2 separate regions of the Homo sapiens genome follow, and region 1 is linked to region 2. The links come from fine-mapping of genetic effects on gene expression. A gene starts in region 2. The other region holds a variant in brackets. All regions are shown on one strand. Distances are from middle to middle. Region 1 overlaps SYNE1 (spectrin repeat containing nuclear envelope protein 1). Region 2 holds the start of SYNE1 (spectrin repeat containing nuclear envelope protein 1).

Region 1 (2,906 bases), 150 kb after region 2:
GGGCTGTGTCAGTCTTCAGCCGCTAAGCTGAGAAGATCTGGGAAGGAGTCAGTCAGAGAGCCTTGGGCCAGAGTTCCAGGGGCTCTGGGAGTGGCTTCCAGGCAAGTTGGACAGTCCTATTTCCAGTGGGTTCCTGCACAAGTGGGACATGGCTTAGGAGGAATCCCAGGCTGTGGTCATTCCTTGGCCCAGTGGCCAGATTTCCAGCACTTGAAGCAAGATCCTGGGGGAGAAGGTCCTGGAGGAATGCCTGGCCACTGTGGTTTAGGTATTTTGAAGTTCTTGTGTGCTGGAGATGTGGCTGGGGTTTCTCTCACAGTGGAGGCAAGTAATTGCAACTCAGAAATAAGTTGCCGCTTGGCTGACTCTTCTCTATTATTGTACACCTTGAAGGCGAGATTGATTAAGTCTTGTTGTGGGGTTTGAGGGCCAGAATCTAATTTTTGGAGCTTTTTCTAATGTTGGGAGTGGGTTGAGTAGTAAAATGCATATTGAGAATAGGACGGCCTTCTGGCCCCTCTGGGTCTAGGGCGGCAAAGCATCTAAGGGTTGTTGCCAAACAGGCCATGAACTGGGCTGGGCTTTTATACTTGACGAAAAAGAGCCTGAACACTAACTGATTTGAGAGAGGTCAGATAAAGAAAAAGGAGGGTTAACCTTGACTCTGCCTTGAGCTGCAGCCACCTCTGTAAGAGGAAATCGTTGGGCAGGTTGGGGAGGGCTAGTCGTGGAACAAAACTATAAGCCAGACAGGGTGGGAGGAGGGGGAGGTGATAGAAGGATTATAGGGCTGGGGAGTGGAGGCTGAGGAAGAATTAGGACCTGGCTCAGCCTGGTGAGGAGCAGCCTGGTGAGGAGGGGAGAGGTCAGATGGGTCCATAGAAAAGGAGGATTCAAAGGACTCAGAGCTTGGGGTGGAGACTGAAGGAACAGACAGGAGAGAAAGAAGATTTGTGATGAGTCGCACTGGGAGCAGAGACTAGGGAGGGACTGATGTGTAAAAGAATGCCTGGATGTCAGGCATCTCAGACCATTTGCACATTTTTCAAGAAAAATCATCCAGGTCTTGTAAGATGGAGAAATCAAAAGTGCTGTTTTCTGGCCATTTAGAACCATTGTTGAGTTTGTATTGGGGCCAAGCAGTGTTGCAGAAGAAAATAAGGCAGTAAGGTTTTAGGTCAGGCGTGAGATGAAGAGGTTTTAAGTTCTTGAGAACACAGGCTAAGGGAGAAGAAGGGGGAATGGAGGGTGGAAGCTTGCCCATAGTGAAGGAGGTAAGTTTAAAGAGAAAGGTAGAGACACAGAGAAGGGGGTGGTGAGCAGCCCTGGGCTGTAATGTGGGTGAGCAGCCAAAGCAGGCGTCTCCACAATTGATTTGCCACCAAGGGAATGTGGGTGAATGACCAAGGCAGGCGTCCCCACAGTGATCAGACACTAGTGGAATGTGGGTGAATAATCAGGCAGGCATCCCCACAGTGATCAGACACTAGTGGAATGTGGGTGAATAATCAGGCAGGCATCCCCACAGTGATCAGACACTAGTGGAATGTGGGTGAATAATCAGGCAGGCATCCCCACAGTGATCAGACACCA[G/A]TGGAATGTGGGTGAATGATCAGGGCAGGCATCCACACGGTGATTAAACACCAAGGGAAGACTGTCTTCCCAAGTCCGTGACCCACGCTGGAGTTTTGTGTCCACAGATAAAATGTGTCTCCTTTGTCTCTATTAGAGAGGAAAAAGAACTGGAATTGGAAGGACAGGGAGATTGAAAGGTAGCGAGAGAAGCTGGAGAAGAGAGTGAAAAGACCGCTTGCCCGATTTGAAATTGGTAAGATGTTCCTTGGGCTGGCCTGAGGACCCAAGGTCATAGGTGGATCTTCTCATGGAGTGAGGGTGAGGACAGGGGACTGGTCTCCTGAAGGAATCCCCCTGTCCCAGATCTTCAGCACCAAATGTCACGTGTGTCCGTGTGAAGAGCCCAACAAACAGGCTTTGTGTGAGCAATAAAGCTTTTTAATCACCCAAGTGCAGGCAGACTGAGTCCGAAAAAGGTAGATAGGGGTGGGGCAGTTTTATAGGATTTGGGAGGGTAGTGGAAAATTACAGTCAAAGGGGGTTTTTCTCTTGCAGACAGAGGCAGGGGTTACAAGGTGCTGAATGGGGAGCTTCCGAGATTCATTGTCCAGAGAAAGAATTTCACAAGATCAATTGATCAGTTAGGATGGGGCAGGAACAAATCACAATGGTGGAATGTCATCGGTTAAGGCAGGAACCAGCCATTTTCACTTATTTTGTGGTTCTTCAGTTGCCTCAGGCCATCTGGATATATACGTGCAGACTTGGGCTCAGAGGCCTGACAAGGATTTTGTGTAGTTGTTCCTAGATATTCACAAGTGATTGGTTCCAGGACCCCCAAGATAGCAAAATTTATGATGCTCAGGTTCCTGATATAAAATAGTGTAGTATTTGCATATAACCTACACATATCCTCCCATATACTTTAATCTGTAGATTATGTATAATACCTAACACAAAGTAAATGCTATTTAAATAGCTGTTATACTGTGTTGTATTTTGTTTGTATTATCTTTATTGCTGTATTGTTATTTTTATTGTTTATTTTCTGAATATTTTCAATCTGCTATTGATTGAATCTAAGAAAACAGAGGGCTGACTTTATATAATGCATTTGGGTGAATATTAGCGCTGAGGTTGTCACAGGATCATAGAGAAGTGTTCTCAATATATGATTCCTTCACCAGCAGCATCAGATTCACCTGGGAACTTAGACATACGGATTTTTGGCTCTACCCCACATCCACTCAGCCAGAAACTCTGGGGGTGGTGCCCAGCAATTTGTGTTTTTATAAGCCCCTCAGATGATTTCTAGTGTGTACTAAGTGAGA
Region 2 (2,906 bases):
GGTGACGCATCCCTGTAATCTCAGCTACTCAGGAGGCTGAGGCAGGATAATTGCTTGAACCTGGGAGGCGGAGGTTGCAGTGAGCCGAGATTGCACCATTGCACCCCAGCCTGGGGAACAAGAGCGAAACTCCATCTCAAACAAACAAACAAACAAAAAGAATGGCAAAGTTGGCACAATAACTTTCTACCCATCTTCAAAAGCCGGCAGGGTGGATTGATTCTATGAAGGTAGGGATTGAGAGGGTGAGCTGAGCCATTCTGATCTGTTTCTTCTGAGTGGCAAGCCTGGAAATCTGGACCCCATTTTGTGGCCACTGGGCACAGAGGGCTGACCTGGAATAATTATGCTCTGGTGGTTGTCTCCACAAGGGGCTCTGGGGGTGCCCCAGGATTGTTGCCCTCAGGCAGAGGCAGGGCATACATTGAGAGTGATCCCAAACACTCCTCCTCCAGGCCCAACTTTTGGAGGTAGCAAGTTCTGCAAATAGAGATCCATTGTTTGGTTTCTCTCTCTAAAAAAAAACAAAAGTCAGCACAAAGAAGAGGAACACATCAGATTGGTTTACCAGATTTGTTTCAGATGTTATTATTTTGACACGATCCAGAAGAAGGAGAATTTGAAGAAAATGGAAAGCTAGGCAGTGGGAATGTTGGCAGCAGGTAAGGGAAAGGCAGGCAGCAAAGAGAAACTTCATCTACTTTATAAACTGCTCCTTCCTTTCAGCAAATTTAGAGGATAAATGACTGTTTTGTTCAGATTGGAGATTCAAGGGGGGGATTATTACTTTTAAGATTATTGCAACATGGCTTCGATTATTTTAGCTGCAATCATCCTGTTGGACTTGGACTTCACTGTTGGTGAAGAGAGACTGTGTTTGACTTTGCCTGGATACCATAAAACCACAACAAAATAAATTCTCCTGAATGCTACCAGGCAACACCAAGATCTCTTACACCACGAGAAGGACTTGTGGCCAAAGATACAAATGGCTCCGCAATGTACAGGGTGCATACAGTGCACCTGAAGAACCTAAAAGTGGTTTTTAGAATCATCATAATAAACAGTCAAGAATTAAAGATGTCAAGCGCTTTCTCAAGAAGTCTAAACTTTATACATAACATTAAAAAAGATCTATAAAGCCTGACCAGTCTCCCTCAAATTAAGTTATTTGCTACTGACTTGGCAGCCAAAACGATTTAGGATCTTTCGGAAGTTGATGAAAAAGGAGCCAGCGGGTTTTGCTCTTTGCTCTGCATCACGCCCTTCCTGGGACCATCAGGGAACCTCCCAGCCTTTCAGGATAGGTTCCGCTCAGAAAGGTCACCCGGGCAGTGGAAACCGTGGGCAAAAGTTAGCTGGCAGGACAGCGCAGCTCCTCCAGGCAGCGGAGGCAGCGCGTCCCGGCTCTCAGGGACATTTCCTTCCCACCTCGACCCCCGGGAGGTGGTCCCGGTATAAAGGCTCGCTGAGCGGGTGGGTCACAGCACAGCTTTGCAGCTGCGGAGAAACGCCCAAGGCCGTGCATCTCCAGGAGGTAGGGAAGCCTGCGAGCCTCCGGGTCCCCGCCCCCAGCTCTTCCAGGCACCGGCGCATCCCGGAGCCGGGCGCGGGGCGCGGGGCACGGAGCCGGGGAGGGGGTGTGGCGGGCCAGGGCGGTGCAGGGACCCTGCCCAGAGGCTGAACCGGCCTGGGCGACCTTCCTTCCCGACAGGAGCAGTAGATGCGTGGGGGAGGGCGAAGGGGGAGGCCTCACCCCCCAGCGAGCAGCCGGGAGGAGGAACCGGTCGCGGAGGGCGGGGAGCGCGGCTGAGCAGCCCGGCGCGGGAGTGAGTGTGGGCGAGCCAGCCAGGGTGAGCGCGGGCGCCGGGCCGCGGCCGCCGGCCGCAGCGGGCTGAGATTGTTGTCCTCTGTCACCAGGGCGGCTGGGCTCCCGCAGTCCTGCAGACCGCGCCCGATCCCGGCGACAGGGCGGGCGGACAGCCGCGCATCCCCGGGGTCCCGCCGAGCCTGGGCGCAGAGAGCCGGGAGGAAGCGTTCGCTCGCTTCGCCTTGCTGCTGGGAAACTGAACGAGGCCGAGAGAGAAGGTAAAAGGAAAGACAGAGACTGGGAGACAGGGAGAGACAGAGACAGGGAGAGGAGAGAGAGGTGCAAGACGAACACATTGCAGACAAATTGTCAGCAAGTTTGTGCCTGCACGCTGGGGCTCTGCGTGCTTGATGGGAGGGGGTGGTGGCAGTGATGTGTGTACGTGTGCGATACTCATAGATAAGGAGACTAGGAGGTTGGGGAGCCTCTTTGCATCTCGTACGTAGATGTCCCTATTAATATCCCCCTCTCTGAGTTGTCATTTCCGCTTGTGGCACATCTCCTGGGCTCCAATGGTGCAGAAGCAAAAGGCAGCCAGCCTCTTATTGTGATGGTCGGTACTGTTGCTACTATCAGATGGGAGAGGTAGGGCGTTGAACAGATTCTAGGAGCCTCCCTTCCTCCACCCCCTGACTATTTTAGGAAGGGCTGGGGGAGGGAAATGGCTTGAAGGCTGCGCGGAGGCCCTGGCGCGTCAGACTCCAGCGGCGCTGTCATGGTGCAGTTGCTTCCCGGCAGAGCCTGCACTAGAGGGCAAGAGAACTTTCGTCTCCTCTTTATAAAGATACGTTTCACATAGAGAGATCTTGCATTGCTGGCGGAGGAGTTCTGGGAAATGGTGGTGCACAGGCGGCCAGGTGCATCCCAACGGGCAGGCATCCGTGCAAAACGAAGCAGCCATCAGCCGCACAGGAAGAAGCCCCTTGGGAAGGCAGGCTGGGTGTGCTGACTGGGATCCCAGACTTTGGATGCTGGAAGTTCTGCCCCCTTCCGTAAATAGAGTCAGGTCCAGCCCAGAGGGAAATATCAGCAATGA

The links. PIP is the estimated chance that this variant, and not a neighbour inherited with it, causes the effect.
Region 1: its variant is fine-mapped to the expression of SYNE1 in fibroblasts (GTEx, PIP 0.95).

What each region holds. Positions count from the first base shown.
Region 1 is chr6:152,489,792-152,492,697 of GRCh38, reverse strand. All of the region lies in intron 11 of SYNE1 (spectrin repeat containing nuclear envelope protein 1), which reads left to right. Among named protein-coding and RNA genes, the nearest start is that of SYNE1-AS2, 89 kb to the right of the region's middle. RefSeq lists an enhancer at 950-2,149. The variant G/A (reference allele first, on the strand shown) is at 1,594.
Region 2 is chr6:152,635,820-152,638,725 of GRCh38, reverse strand. SYNE1 (spectrin repeat containing nuclear envelope protein 1) reads left to right here and starts at 1,364. Exons shown (of 146, transcript NM_182961.4): 1 at 1,364-1,537; 2 at 1,921-2,088.